2 separate regions of the Homo sapiens genome follow, and region 2 is linked to region 1. The links come from fine-mapping of genetic effects on gene expression. Tissue or cell type: whole blood. Region 1 holds a variant in brackets; the other region holds the start of a gene. All regions are shown on one strand. Distances are from middle to middle.

Region 1 (8,107 bases):
GGTTGGCTGGGGAGGCCGGAGGAGAAAGGTTTCCCATAGAAATTGAGCAATCGCTATGTCCTGAGTTGGTTGAAACCAACGAGGTGGGTTTAAGGATATTCCCATTGGGGTCTTGGTTGTTTGTTGTCATTGGACTGTGTTTCAGTCTCTTCTGGACATAAGTAAACCTCAATGTGCCCTTGGGTACCTGCCAAATGTATTTGTAGGCTCTCTTATTGAGTCAGGCACTCAAGTCTTATTTCTGGAGGGGCTTTCACAACTATAACAGTTTGGTCTTTAAGGCCACTAATTTTTCGAATATGTTGATATGTAACGTAAGCTAACCTTTGACGATCTGAATCCTCGGTTAATAGTTTGAGGTCCAGCGTGCAGCTTGGGATCAGTTCATCTAATTTCTTCTCTTCCTGAGTGAGCTTGGTCATTTCTTTTGACAGGCCTTGACACTGGGTCAGCATGCCCCCATCCGCAGACAGACTGCAACCCATCCACTGGACGTTATTTTTAGACTTCTTCTTAATGAGATGGATGCCTTTCAGAGCTTTGGTGATATCATAAATCCTTCTATTTTGCACTTTTAGCACTTCCGCTGCCTTGTTCAAAACCAAGACCCCATCGGGTGACTGGTTCAGGAGCTGAATGAACTTCTTGGTGAGCAGATCAAGAGACTATCGTACCGTGTTTTTTCTGAGGTAGATTTTGGAGTTTTTGGAGTATCTGGACTTCTTAGTGCAGCTCTTCCTTTGCCCTTGGGGGTTTTTGAACCATCCGAGAGGTACTGATGACCGCTTTCTCCTAGCTCCAGACTTCACTTTGCCAGAGGGCCACTGCCGCCTCGTCCCAGCGCTGGTGGCTGCAGCAGCCCGGCTCTGCTGGAGGGTCCCTGCGGCGTGGTGTAGAGGAGGTTGCCGGCGGTCTGCTCCGCGCCTGGGGCACTGGGGAGGAGGGGGCCGGTGGCTACGGCGCCGCTTTGGAGGGAGAGGGAACAGGAGGTGGTGGAAGTGTTCGTGGTGAGGATCTGGATGTCGGATATTTCTTTCTATTCCCAATTTGCTAAGGGTTCTTTTTAAAAATCATGACTGGTTGTGGGATTTTTGTCCCACTTGGAGCATAAGATGCTGTGCTGTATAAACTGTCATAATATTCCACAAGGTTGGTGTTCCTCTCCGGAAGTAGATGACAGTTTTCTGCCCCATTGATATTAGGCTTGGCAAGGTGACTTGTTTTGATCTATGGAATAAGTGCAGACGTCATATGTATTCTTTCTGAGGATAACTTTCAAGAGTCAAATGCTTTTTCGGTATCTATTGAAATGATCATGTGATGTTCCTTTTTTCATTAATGCAGTGAATAGGCCGATTGATTTTCACATCTAAATCACTCTTGGATACCGAGAGTAAACCTCTGTTGGTCTTAATATAATTTTGGGGGGTATATTGCTGCATTCATTTTACATATATATATGTACATATATATACGGACAGGGTTTCACTCTGTCGCTCAGGCTGGAGTGCAGTAGCCTGATCACGGCTCACTGCAGCCTCAACAGCCCAAGTTCAAGTGATCCTCCCACCATAGCCTCCTTAGTAGCTGGGACCACAAGTGCACTGCCACCACGCCCGGTTATTTTAAAAAATTATTTGTAGAGATGACGTCTCCTTATATTGCCAGGCTAGTCCTGAAGTCCTGGGGTCAAGCGACCTTCCTGTCTCCTCCGCTCAAAGTGCTGGGATAATAGGCGTGAGCCACTGCCACGGTATAGGAACGACGTCGTAATCTTTTTTGCTTACTTCTTGGATGCCTTCTTGGTGGTCTGGGAAAATCCCTGCACTACCATTTTGTAAGTCAGTGACTGAAGAAGAGTTTCCTCACTTCAGTGAAGCTGTTTCCTTAGAGCTGGCGTGAGAATCAGATGAAATGAAGAAAAGCACGGCTATGTACTTTTGTTTTGTTTTGTTTTTGAGGCAAAGTCTCGCTCTGTCGCCTAGGCTGGAGTGCAGTGGCGGGATCTGGGCTCACTGCAACTTCCGCCTCCCCGGTTCAAGAGACTCTATTGCCTCAGCCTCCCGAGTAGCTGGGATTACAGGCGCGTGCCACCACGCCCGGCTAATTTTTGTATTTTTAGTAGAGACGGGATTTCTTCATGTTGGCCAGGCTGGTCTCAAACTCCTGACCTCAGGTGATCCGCCCGCCTCTGCCTCCCAAAGTGCTGGGATTACAGTCCTGAGCCACCGCGCCCGGCCAGCTATATACTTTCAATGCATGTGCTCATTCAGTGTGAAGAAGTACTCTGCCTGTACCTTAAGATTCTAGATGGGACTTCCAACGGCAGGCCCTTAATTGAGTCCGGAGTGGGATGGAGCTAGGGAGAAAGGGCAATTCAGACTGGTGAACTCCTCAGTTAGTGAGTCATTTTGGCCTGTGTGCATTTCAAAAAGTATGGGTTCTCGCAACAGTTCTTAGACGTGTGGGCTGGAGAAACGTGTATTATCGTAATTACCATAACAAGGGCCCCACGAAAGCAACGTGACAGGAGGGCTGTATCCAGTTAGAGGAGCCACTGGACTGTTCGAAGCCAACTAATTGGCCTAGAAGGCCGCAAGATACTTCCTACACCGCAAGGGGTAGTTGTTCAACTCTGTCTCTCTGAGAGCAACCCGCTCCTCGCACCTCCCTCCTCCCCTGTGCATTAGTAGCTGCTCTCCCCCGGTTTCTGGCGTCAACTGCGCTTTCAAGCAAGGGGACAGCAGGGCTGCTCTGGGATACGAGTCAAGCTGGAATGTCACCCCTTTAGGGGTTTGGTCCTTCGTCAATTTTTTTTTGAGACGGAGTCTTGCTCTGTCGCCCAGGCTGGAGCGTAGTGGCACGATCTCGGCTCACTGCAAGCTGCGCCTCCGGGGTTCACGCCATTCTCCTGCCTCAGCCTCCCGAGTAGCTGGGACTACAGGCGCCCGCTACCATGCCCGGCTAATTTTTTTGTATTTTTAGTAGAGACGGGTTTTCACCATGTTAGCCAGGATGGTCTCTATCTCCTAAGCTGGTGATCCACCCTCCTCAGCCTCCCAAAGTGCTGGGATTACAGGCGTGAGTCACCGCGCCCGTCGTTGGATTCGCAGACACACCGTTTCCAAAGGCGCAGAGTCGATAACAGCGCGTGCGGTGCCACCACTTCCGGGGAGTCGAGTGCCCGATAGAAATGCAGCTGAGCGAGGGGCTAGCCGCACACGGACGCGGAGAGCAGGAAAGTGGAAAAGAACTCAGGTCCCCCTACTTGGTGAAGAGTGCGCAGACATGGACCTCGCCAGGTTCGTTCTCTTTTTCTTTAAATAACTTTTTTTTCGCCTTAGAAAATACAAATAGGTACAGACGAAACGAGAACTTCTCCGTGATCCCTCAGAGCTATTCACGTGGGCGTTTAACTTTCAGTTGCTTAAGGGCCCGCGCTGGCACAGCGCCTGCAAGGAATCCTGTTTCCAGGGAATTGCTGGCAGATAAATTCGTCCCGCTCCACTGCCAAACCTTCCAGCCTCCGTTTCTTATTCCGGGGGTCCGGGGGGGGTGGTCCGTGGGCTCCGGGACGAGGTGGGGCGCTGCCAGAGCAACCCCACCGATCTCGGGGAGACCCGAGGCTGCTTTCTCTCCCTTCTGGGAAAGTTGGCTCCTGTCTCTGTAGCAATGTCTGTCAAAACCGCAGGCTGTTGTAGACTTAGCAATGGAGGACTTGAAAGCTGTAGATGACAAAACTTCCGCCCGTGCGTGGGCTGGGGAGCGCCTTAAAAAGCCGCAGGGCGGCCGGGCGCGGTGGCTCAAGCCCGTGAGGTGTTGGTGCAGAGCTGGAGAAGTGGGGAGTGCTGTATGGACAGGCCAGACTTGGCAGGTGTCCATCGGATGGGGGTTGCCCAC[C/T]CTCCTGGAGTCCTGAGCATTCAGGGAGTTGGGGAATGGGTTATTTAGGTGAAATGTGACCAGGCACTGACGAACTGCGCCCTAGATCCTGAAAGAAAAACCAAGCACCCTCTTGCGCTGCTGGTTTATCATCTAGAAGAGGGAAAGGGTGAAAGCAGTGCTGTTCCGAACTAAATGCAAAGTGGTATCCGAAGACGGCAAATCACGCTCTATGCTTTTTGCTCCCCAGGAGGTAGCTCTTCTGCCTCCTGTCCCACCCTTGTGGGTTGCAGTTCTTACTAACCTGTTGTTCTGGCATAACTCTAAGGAGATATGAATGCCACCCCCATTCCCATTAAAGATAGCCAACAACATAGCCTAAATCATGAGTTCAGGTCTGATAGAATTTCCCCTATAGTCAAAAGTATAAAGGATTTCAGTGGAAACATCTAACCTGTAAACCTAGACCCAAGGTTTAAGGGAGGCCAGTGAGTTTTAGGCCCTAGAGATTTGGTCGGCTCAGTCCTCAGCTCGTTTTTATTTATTTATTTATTTAATTTTAGCATTGTGTTCCAGATGTATGCCTGAAGCCTGAGGTTTTGAACCATGGAAAGTTTTACATGGCTGCAGGTGTTGGACTCGGGTGGCCAGGATCCCAGGCTAGTCCACAAGTGCTCGGTCCTCTATAAGGTGGCTCAACTGCAGCTCCCATGGGTTCCAAGTTTCCCAGTGGTATGCGTACCCTCCTTAAGCAATCTGAGGGTGAGATGTGATTTCTGTCACCTTCTGTGTATGGTGGGTGAGCCAAAAGGGTTCATCCAGGGCAAGGCCTGATACAGACAGTGCAGGAAGTTGGGCTGGGAGGAAAGGGGACAGGACTCCAGTTACAGAGGCTGCAAGAAGAATTGGAGAGCAGGGGCTAATCAAGGAGGTGAAAGAACTTTACGAGGAGAACTATGAAACACTGCTGAAAGAAATCATAGACGACACAAACAAATGCAAAAGCACTCCATGCTCATGTGTTGGAAGAATCAGTATCATTAAAATGTTCACACTCCCCAAAACAATCTACAGATTCAATGCTATTCCTATGAAATTACCAATGTCATTTTTCACAGAATTAGAAAAAATGATTTAAAATTTGTATGCAACCAAAAAAGAGCCTGAATAGCCAAGGCAATCCTAAACAAAAAGAACAAAACAGGATAGGGAGCCTTACACCACATTACTGCATTTCAAGCTATACTTCAAGGCTACAGTAACCAAAACATAGTACTGATACAAAAATAGACACGTAGACCAATGGAACAGAATAAAGACCCCTGAAATAAAGCTTCACACCTACAACCAACTCATCTTTGATAAAGTCCACCAAAATAACCAATGGAGAAAGGACACCCTATTCAATAAATAGCTAACCATATGCAGAAGAATGAAACTGGATCCCTGTCTCTCACCATATACAAAAATTAACTCAAAATTAAGACTGAAATGTAAGACCACGAACTATAAAAGTTCTAGAAGAAAATCTAGGATATACTCTTCTAGACATTGCCCTGGGCAAATAAATTATTATAAAGATCTCAAAAGCAAATGCCACAAAATCAAAGATAGACAAATGGGACTTAACTAAACAGCGTCTGCACAGCAAAAGTCTCAACAGAGTAAACAGACAACCTAGAGAATGGGAGAAAATGTTTGCAAGTCATGCATCCAACAAAAGACTAATATCCAGACTTTATAAAGAACTTAAATGAATCAAGAAAAAAACAAACAACTCCATTTAAAAAATGTGCAAAGGGCATGAACAGAAACTTCTCAAAAGAAAACATGCAAGCTGCTCACAAACATTTAAAAGGTCAACATCACTAATCATCAGAGAGCTGCAAAGCGAAATCACAATGAAATACCATCTCATCTAGTCAAAATGACTATACTAAAAAGTCAAAATATGTAGGAAAAAATTAATGAAAAATAAAGAGTTGGTTTTTTGAAAAGATCAAGATTGACAAACCTTTAGCTAGATTGATGAAAGAAAAAACTCAACTAAAATCAAAAAAGAAAGAAGAGACATTACTATTGATTTTATAGAAATCAAAAGGATTATAAGAGTGTACTGTAAAAAATTGTATGCCAACAAATCAAATAACCTAGATGAAATGGACAAATTCCTAGAAACACATCACCTACCAACACTGAGTCAGGAAAAAACAGAAAATCTGAATAGACCTATGTCTAGTAAGGAGATGGAATCAGTAATCTAAAACCCAACTAAGAAAGGCCATGGACCAGATGACTTCAGTAATAAATTCTACCCGAGTAAATTTTTTTTTTGTGAGCCTCTGTCAATATAAACAATTTGAATAAACCCAAATCAGCATTATCAGCACCATCCTGGCAATCCAATCTGACTTGATCCTGTGAAAGAAATCCTGCTCCAGATAGTGAGAGCAATGCACTTGCCAGGCTATTCTCCTGGAATAGGACCTAGCCATGAGGTCCTAGGACAACCCCACAGCCACAAGTCCCAGGGTTTCTTGGGTGAAGGGCCATTGAGTTTCCCAGATGGAAGGAACAGGGATGCTAGTAGTTCTGTCCAGTCTGGGGCACCCTGCCAGGATGACACTGCTGGTGCTGATTGGTACCTGGCACTGGAAATGGTTTAGATAATTTCAAGGAGGGCATTCCAGAACATGGAACGTGCTTTGAACCCCCTGAGGTTCAGTGTCTAAGGTAGGAACTGAACCAAAGCTTTTCCTTCTGGTGTCTTAAATGATTGGGAGTCCTCGCTTGATTTCCTGCAGTTTGAAAACAACTGCTCTGGCCACTTCACTGCTTTGTTTCTAAATATTTCCCTAGATCTATGGTGAAATTAGTGCCAAGTATAGGTACAAAGTTATGTGGGAGTAGCAGAGAGTGAAGGACAAATATGGGAGTTCTGGGATGGATGATAGAGAGTTTATCAGGTGACAAAGGTGGAGGAAAACATTAGAGTCTCAGAGCACACCTATGCAAAAGCACAGAGTCCCCAAATCACATGGGGAGTGGTGACTACTCTGGTGCACAAGGAGTTGTGTCATTTATTGAACATCTACTCTGGTCCCTGTAAATTGTTAAGTGTTATATGGAATAGACGGTTCTTTTTCCTCTGTATGTCACCACCATGATTTGCATATGAATTCTCTTGATGTAACCCCAATTGTCCAAATGATCTGGGGCCTCAATTTTATTATTGTTTACACATGATCAGAAATTTATAGAGACAAAGGTGGTATCTACAACCTTAGCTGAGTATCTGCGTGATAGTGGTCTAGCAGTGGACAGGAATATTCTGACCCCTTTATAGCCCTTTCCTAGTGTAGTGATTACTACCTATGATGGACTTTACTCTCAACTGTCTCTAGGCCACTTGACAAACCTACAGTCTTTAGGTTTTCGTCTATAGCAAAACAGTGATCCCAATAGATTTTAAAGGAAAAGAGCTAATGGATTATGTATACATAGACTAAAGCACACTGTCTTAGTCTGTTTGGCCTGCCACAACAAAATACCATAAATTGGGTGACTTATAAATAACAGAAATTTATTACTCAGTTCTGGAGCCTGGGAAGTCCAAGATCAAGATACCAGCATCATTGGATTCTGGTGAGGACCTTCTTCCCATTGCAGACTGTCAACTTCTTCTGTGTTTTTCATATGGCAGAAGGGGTGAGCTTGTGTTACAGGATCTTCAGGGTGTTGATTTTCTGGCCAGAAACCTCTGTGGCTGGCGGCACCTTTGCCAGAGTTCTTGTCCTGTGTCCAGGAAGAATGAGGTATGCAGACAAGTGAAGGGTGAACAAGACGAAGATGAGCTTTATTAAATGTTAGGACAGCTCAGAGGAGACCTGCAGTGAGTAACTCCTCTCTGTAGGCAGGTCATCCCATGGAATGTTCAGCTCTCAGCAGAGGGGAGGCCCTGGGGAGGGTAGCTTCTATCTGCTACTGGTCCTTCCTACGTTTGCTGCTCTCAGCAGAGAGGAGGCCCTGGGGACCGTTGCTTCTCTCTGCAGCCAATGTCTCTTCAGGTCTCTGAAGCGCTCAGCAGAGAGGGTAGTTCCACTCTGCGGCTGGTTGTCCTGTCCTCTCCTGCTATCAGCAGAGAGGGTAGTTCCTCTCTGAAGTTGGTCCTCTCTTCATCTCTTCCTCCTCTGCCCCTGCTCTGGCTGAGCCCAGGGCTTTTATGGAC
Region 2 (8,107 bases), 55 kb after region 1:
ATTAAGAGTTCAAAAGAGAAAAATCACATGATCATCTGAATAGAGGAAAAAGCTTTTGATAAAGTTCAACATCCATTCATAATAAGGACTCTCAGCAACTTAGAAGTATAAAAACACTTTTGGAAATCAACAAAGGGAATTTACAGCATGAACAAACAGCAAGCCAGCATGGTGGCTCACACCTGTAATCTCAGCACTTCCAGAGGCCAAGGCAGGAGAATCACTTGAGCCCAGGGGTTAGAGACAAGCCTTGGCAACATAGCAAGATCCTGGCTCTACAAAAAATAAAATAAAATGAAATAAAATTTAAAAATTAGCTGGGTTTGGTGGTGTGTGCCTGTAGTCCCAGCTACTGGGAGGCTGAGGTGAGAGGATCACTGGAGCCCAGGAGGTGAAGGCTGCAGTGGGCTAAAAACAACCAGAACAACCCCCCAACCCCCTCCCCGCAAAACACTATAAAGAATAGCAACACAAGGTTCAATGTAAACTTTGATATGGTGTTTTACCTCTGAGGAGAGGCTTATTGTTAATATTCTTTAGCCGTGTAAGGGGTTCACAGATGTTCATACTTTTGTTCTTTATACCTTATATGTATTCTATAAATATTGTTTCTACTCAATAGTTAATAAAAACATAATTTAAAAGTTCTGTGAATGTTTTTACTCTGCTCACTTTTGAGGGGCCTTTTGGGATATGCATTTTCTATTCCAAGTTGATCTGATATGTCATGCCTGCCACACACATTCCCATGGGAACAACTTCTTAATGTCTTTTGTTTCTGCCTTGGAAGCCATCCTGGTGCTCTGGGAAAATCCCTGCACTAGCATTTTCTTTTTCTTTTCTTTTCTTTTTTTTCTTTTTCTTTTTTTGAGATAGAATCCCTTGCTCTGTCTTTCAGGATGGAGTGCAGCCGTGTGATCTTGGCTCACTGCAACCTCTGCCTCCATCCAAGCGATTCTCATGCCTCAGCGCCCCCACACCCTCCCCAGTCCACCACAGTAGTTGGGACTACCAAGGCGCGCACGACTATGCCCTCTCACCATATTGCCCTGGCTGGTCTCCAACTCCTGAGCTCAGGCAATCCACCCACTTCGGCCTCCCAAAGTGCTGGGATTATAGACGTGAGCCACCGCACCCGGCCTGCGCTAGCTTTTTTTCTTTGTTTCTTTCTCTTTCTTTCTTTCTTTTTCTTTCTCTCTCTCTCTCTTCTTTCTTTTTTTCTTTCCCTCCCTCCCTCCCTTCCTTTCTCTCTTCTCTCCCTTCCTTCCTTCCTTCCTTCCTTCCTTCCTTTCCTTCCTTCCTTCCTCTTTCTTTCTTTCTTTCTTTCTTTCTTTCCCTTCCTTCCTTCCTTCCTTCCTTCCTTCCTTCCTTCCTTCCTTTCTCTCTCTCTCTCTTTCTTTCTTTCTTTCTTCTTTCCTTTTTTTTCCCCGAGACAGAGTTTTGCTCTTGTTGCCCAGGCTGCAGTGCAGTGGCATGATCTCAGCACACTGCAACCTCCGCTTCCCAGGTTCAACTGATTCTCCTGCCTCTGCCTCCCTAGTAGCTGGGATTACAGGGGTCTGCCACCACGCCCGGCTAATTTTTTTTGTATTTTTAGTGGAGACGGGGGTTTCACTACGTTGGCTGGGCTGGTCTCGAACTCTTGACTTCAGGTGATCCACCCACCTCGGCCTCCCAAAGTCCTGGAATTATGGGCATGAGCCACTGCTCCCAGCCGGCACTAGCATTTTCTAAGCCAATGACTGAAGAATAGTTTTTTAACTTCGGTGAGACTGTATCCATAGAGCTGGCGTCTGGATCAGATGAGAAGAAGAAAAGCGCAGCTATGTGCTTTCAATATATACGTTATTTAATGTGAATAGGTACTCTTCCTAGGTACCTTAAGATTTTAGAATAGGCAGTAGGCAGTTAATGCAGTCCAGAGTGGGGTAGGTGGAGCTTGCGGAGAAGGAGCAACTCAGACTTGCACATTCCCCTGTGATGAGTCATCGTGGCCTGTGTGCATTTCAAAAGCTATGTACTGAGACACCAATTCTTAGACAAGTTAGCAGGAAAAACATGTATTACCATAATTATCATAATAAGGGGGCTAAAGGAAAGCAAAGTGGCAGGAGGACTGTATCCGGCCAGACTAGCCTTTGGAGCATCCCAATAAAGGAATCTCCCAAATGGCCCCAAGATGCTCCCTACACTGCCAGGGGTAGGTATTTGAATCTGTCTGTCCTGGAGCAATCCGCTCCTTGCACCTTTGTCCTCTCCTGTCCATCCACAGCTGCCCTGGCCTGGTTCCTGGGGGCAACCGTGCTTTTAAGCAAGGGGGCAGCAGTGCTGCTCTGGGAATGCGAGTACAGCTGGAAAGGTTGAGTCACCCCTTTAGGGGCATGGTAAGAATGCCTGGTATTTCTTCAATTTTGATGAACCAAAATAGTGACAATTGCCCAAAGGCGCAGAGTCGATAATAAAGAGTGCGGACACTTCCGGAGCGCCAGCTGCCCAATAGAAATGCAGGCCACGCTGGGGAAGTGTGGAGCCGCAGCCCAGGATGGGGAGGGCCGGAAAACAGAAAAGGATTCGCGTTCTTTTTACTCTGTGGAGAGTGAGCCCGCGGACTGTAGCCTGGGCCTCGCCAAGTTCCTTTGTTCTTTGTTTTCTTTAAATTACCTTTTTTCTTTTTGTCTTAAAAAATACACATGGGTGAAAAAGAAACGAGAGCTCCCTAGAGATCACTCAGAGCTGTTTTCGTGGGTTTTTAACTTCCAGTTGCTCAAGGGTCCACGCTGGCATCTGGGGTGTGCTCGCACCTGCGAAGAATCCAGCTTCTAGGGAGCACCGCGAGCTGGTAAGTTGGTCCTGCTCCATCGCTAAACCTTCCAGCCTTAGTTTTTCATTTCTGGGGAGTCTGCTGGCTCGGGAGGAGGTGGGGCACTGGTAACACAACCCCACCACTCCCGGGAAGATCCCCGCACCCCCATCCCGGTCTGCTTTCTCTCCCTTCTGAAGCAGGAGAATAAGGGTCTGGAGGAAAATCCCAACTTTCCACAAACTTCCTTTGTAGCCCCTCCTTTTCTACATGGCAGATGAAAAACTGAAAATACCTCTGATTGGTCCCCTCCCGCAACCAATCAGACTGGTCTCCAGGGCCAAGTCTTCATGTGCATAGGAATGTAACTTTGTAACTTCGCTTTCTGCGTCCAATCAGATGTTTTCATAGGGCATAACTTTGTAACTTCACTTCAGCCTCCCATTGATCGCTTTCTGCAACCATTCAGACTGATCTCGGGCTCCTATTTCATTTACATTGTGTGCACACCAAGTAACCAGTGGGAAAACTTTAGAGGGTACTTAAACCCCAGAAAATTCTGAAACCGGGCTCTTGAGCCGCTATCCTCGGGCCTGCTCCCACCCTGTGGAGTGCACTTTCGTTTTCAATAAATCTCTGCTTTTGTTGCTTCATTCTTTCCTTGCTTTGTTTGTGTGTTTGTCCAGTTCTTTGTTCAACACGCCAAGAACCTGGACACTCTTCACTGGTAACATATTTTGGCAAGCCAACCAGGAGGTAAGCCCAAAGTCTGGGATTTATTTTTCTCCTTTCCCTTTTCCTTTCTGCTCCATACAGGTAAATCTCTCTCTTTCTCTTTTCCTTTCCAACGTGGGATCCTTGGTGGGTAGCGCCTAGACACGGAGGCGACTGCAGGTTTCTGGCCGGGGGCTACTCTCCAGTGCTGCCTTGAAGGCCAAGGAGTGAATGGGGATAGTTGCCCTGCCCAGAAGCGGGAAGGGCTCTTTTCTGTCTTTTCTGGTTGTGGTCCCTGATCCCTATGTGTGACGCAGCTTCTCCAGGGCGAACTCACACGTGTTTCAGGTGACTTAAACCTTCTTTCCTTATGTTAAATTCTTCCCTTCCCCTACTCTACTGGCTAAGGTTAAAAGAAACCCACCTAGCCTCCATTTCATATCATTAAAGTTCATGACTATCACTCTAGTGGAATGGGAACCATGGGAAAGCATGGCCTTATCAAATTATAAGGATGCTAGAAGTCAAGGCCTTCATCCAGAGACAAAAGGAAAGCTCACAGTAGGCCATCCCCTCTGGAGGGAAAACATGTAAAGTGGCACTGGTGACCACCTAAGGTCAGAGACGTCTGACGCTCTAAGATTGGACCCTAAAGGGGGATGCTCTGGAGGATCCTTTGGACCTCAGCCTCTCCAAGGGGGTTCCTTTGGTAGAGGTTCTTAGGCCTAGTACTAAGCCCTCCTTAGAATTTTCTCTTCCGGTTGCAGTAGTGTTTGGCCTCAATATTGTTTGGAATCTGGAGTTTGCTGTTGAATGGTAAAGTGGGATGGAGTTGCATGTATGCAGGCTCTTGTGCTGCTGTTCTAAGCAGGGTTGTGTCGGGTTAAAGTGTGATGTTCTCCTTTGGTGCTGTTTGGCCTCAGCGTTCTTTGAAGTGCGAGGAAGTTTGACCTTTAAAAATCAAACTGCCATGGAAACCGCTGACTTATAAATTGCTAAAGTTGTTTATAACCAATGTTTGGTTTCTCAAATCCATATTCCTGGGAAGACAATCAAAGCTTCAGGTACATTTGGCTACCCGATGGGCCATTTAAACATTTACAAAGGGATTTTATTCAATGTCACTTTCAATGCATGTTTTCTTGTTGTATAAAAGCTTTTCCCATGATTATGCTACAGTGTATTTTCACCAGGTAAAGAAAGCTTTTTATGGTTCACTGAGAACAATCAACCCCTTCACAACCTAGAACCCATAGGATAGATGTTCTCAGAACATCTACTGTAAAGGCCATAGTTACACAACAGACTTTAAATTCTTTTGTGAAAGTTATGATAGAATTGGCTGAACAGAGAAGTATCTGTGCAGCTGCTGGCACTTAGAGTCTATGGAGAAATACATTAAATGAAGATTAAGAGATTCAGTTGTAGGGGATTAATGAGGAGATTGTTTACTTAAGTTGGTAGATTCTTTATTTAGTTCATTATTTGATCTATTTAATTTTAACTGGTTTGGTTTATGGGAACCCTGGGCAAGGAGCATCCTCCAAACTCTTGGTATTATCCTCCCAATAGTCATCATAATAATAGGCTCCCTGGTGCACTGTATTCTCTCAAAGGTTTTCGATGTTTGCATGCAGCCATCTCTAGAATGTCAAATGGTCTCTCTTCAACTGGAATGATGAGAAGTGAAACAAATATGCGACCATGAGGACACTGTAACCTATGGATGGTGTGCTGAGACTGGAAACCCAAAATGATGGTAACTGAGAGCGGCGCTAAGGCCTTACGTTTTGGTTACATTCTCACCTAAGTGAGAACCTGAACAAAAAGGGGGAATTTTAAAAAACAAAATTGTGAAAGGCCAGTGTTTTGGACTGAGCTCATGGCCCCAACAGACCAAACCAAACCAAAATGGAGTTGCTCATTCTAAGACTTTAAGGAAACACATAGATCCTAGAACAGACCAAGTTTTTGTTTTTCTCCTGCAAACAGAATGTTTCAGTGAGCAGGACACCCTCCACCGGTAACACTTTCCTGTCTCTGTAGCAACTTCTAATAAACTGCAGGCTGTTGAGGACTTCAGAATGGTGGACTTGGAAGCTATAGGTCGGGTGGAACTTTTGCTCCTGCATGGGCTGGGGAGCAGCCCAGAAAATTTAAAGCATTACCAGAAAATTTAAAGAGCTGTGGGGCCAGTGAGCCAGGGATCTGCAGTGTTCAAGCAGAGCTAGAGAGGCAGGGAGGGCAGAGTGCTCTATGGTCAGGCCAGGCTTGGTGGGTGTCCAGACCTCCCAGGGTTATCCATCCTCCTGGAGTCCTGAACATGCAGGGAGTTGGGGAATAGGTTCTTTAGGTGAAATGCGACCAGGCACTGATGAACTGCATTGCTAGATCCTAAAAGAAAAACCAAGCACCCTCATGCCCTGCTGGTTTATTATCTAGAAGGCGGGAAGGATGAGAGCAGTGCTGTCCTGAACTAAATGCAAAGTGACATCCTAGGAGGGCAAAGAGTGTTGCATGATTTTTGTTTCCCAGGAGGTAGCTCTTACAACTTCTGTCCCACCCTGTGGGCAGTTCCTACTAACCTGCTGTTCTGACATAACTCTAAGGAGATCTGAATGCTGTCTCCTTTCCCATTAAAGATAGCCAACAACAAAGCCTAAATAGTGAGTTCAGGTCTGATAGAATTTCCCCTATAGTCAAAAGTATAAAGGATTTCAGTGGAAACATCTAACCTGTAAACCTAGACCCAAGGTTTAAGGGAGGCCAGTAAGTTTTAGGCCCTAGGGATTTGGTAAGCTCAATCCCCAGCTCATTTTTTAAGGGTTTTGTCCCAGATGTATGCTTGAAGGCAGTGATTTTCAACTATGGAAAGTTTTACACAGCTGCAGATGTTGGACTGGGGTGACCGGGATCCCAGGCTAGTTCACAAGCGCTGGGTCCTCTATAAGGTGGCTCAACTGCAGCTCCCATGGGTTCCAAGTTTCTCAGTGGTATGAGCACCCTCCTTAATCAATCTGAGGGTGAGATGTGATTTCTGTCCCCTTCTGTGTATGGTGGGTTAGGCAAAAAAGTTTACACAGAGCCCAGCCTGATGTAGACAGTGCAGAAAGGTGGGCTAAGAGGAAAGGGGACAAGACTCTAGTTAGAGAGGCTGCAAAAAAGAATCGGGGAGCAGAGCAGAGGCTGCTTGGTGAGGCATTACCAGAAAATTGTAGGGCTGGGGCTGTGCGCCTGGGTAGAAGTGGAACTGATTCTCCTGCAGCCTTTGTGGGTAGAGATGGAGAATCTCTTCTGTCTGGTCAACAGGGAAGGTGGACTTGCCTTTGGGGCAGCCTCATGTGCAAGAAATATGAAGAAATTGGGTCTAAAGAACACTAATTGTGCTATAATACTAAGGAGAAAGCTCAGCATGGCAGAGATATACATCTTCCTCTGCTTTCTAGCATAATTATGCCACATTGAGACTACTATTGAGTTTTAAATTTAAACTTCAATGATTGTGCTTACCTGGCTTCACTCTTGTTCAACTACCAGGAGTCAGGTCCTCCCCACTTAGGTTCTCTTTTTTTGGAATCTCCCTGGGTCATATGCAAATGCTTTCTTCTATGGACCCAGGCCCAGGGAGCCTATTTGAATGAATGCTAGGTCCAATATCTCTTAGAAGGCAGCCTCTCTTTGTTCTCTCTGAGTTTTCAGGAAACACTGAGGGAAAGATGCTGCTTTCTAATAGCTTTTAGACCACATCCTCTTACCCCCAAAAATTACAGGGGAAAAGTTCTGTAATCCCCACTAAGATGCTTTCTAACAGCTTTTAGACCACATCCTCTTCCCCGCAAAAGGTACAGGCCAAAGTTCTGTAATCCCCACTAAGATGCTTTCCAGTAGCTTTTATACCATATCCTCTTCCCCCCAAAAGGTTCAAGGCAAAGTGCTGTAATCACCACTAAGATAAATTTGCTAGCGATAATTCTGATACAATTATTTGGGAAAGTATTTGATAATATATATCAAAATCTTTGAAGTTTTTGTCACTTGATACAGTAATTTAACTTTTACAAACTTCTGTCTCTCTCTGTGTGTACATATATACACTCTATATACTTACATAATTTCAGCTTAATTATGTACCTAAGGCACAGGTTCAAATATAACCTTATGTTTCACCATGAACCTTTATTTCCACAGATTCAGACTCTTTCTTCTCTTACATAATTTTTCCCCTTCAAGGTTCCATTTCTTATATCCTGAAATCTGGCTTCTTTTCTGTCTACATGTTCTGGCCTCCCATACTCGATTTAACCATCTTTGTATATATCTGAACCGTATCTGTATATATAATTGAAGTGCTTTGCCAGGGCACTCTTAGACTCAATGAAAATTAGACTGTGTGATTAGCATACCCAAACATTGAAATAACTGAGTCAAGATTCTAGTATAATTATATCGAATGATTGAAAGCAACTTCAATGTTCAGTTGTAAGGTAATAGTTAAATAATGGTACATTAATACCATGTATGAAATTATGCAGTTAATAAGGTTTTTAAAGAATAGCTAATTATTATTTTTGCAAAACTTGTTGTATATACTAT

What was found. PIP is the estimated chance that this variant, and not a neighbour inherited with it, causes the effect.
Region 2: it holds the start of SLFN12, and the variant in region 1 is fine-mapped to the expression of SLFN12 in whole blood (TOPMed, PIP above 0.99).

Annotation. Positions count from the first base shown.
Region 1 is chr17:35,482,921-35,491,027 of GRCh38, reverse strand. All of the region lies in intron 2 of SLFN12L (schlafen family member 12 like), which reads left to right. It also overlaps the pseudogene E2F3P1. Among named protein-coding and RNA genes, the nearest start is that of SLFN13, 38 kb to the right of the region's middle. RefSeq lists a silencer at 764-1,058 and an enhancer at 3,573-3,852. The variant C/T (reference allele first, on the strand shown) is at 3,901.
Region 2 is chr17:35,427,637-35,435,743 of GRCh38, reverse strand. It overlaps SLFN12 (schlafen family member 12), which reads left to right and starts at 3,244. Exons shown (of 4, transcript NM_018042.5): 1 at 3,244-3,556. SLFN13 (schlafen family member 13) reads left to right here. Exons shown (of 6, transcript NM_144682.6): 6 at 1-648. RefSeq lists enhancers at 1,157-1,882, 1,833-2,072, 2,893-3,112, 2,041-3,240, 2,609-3,334 and 1 more.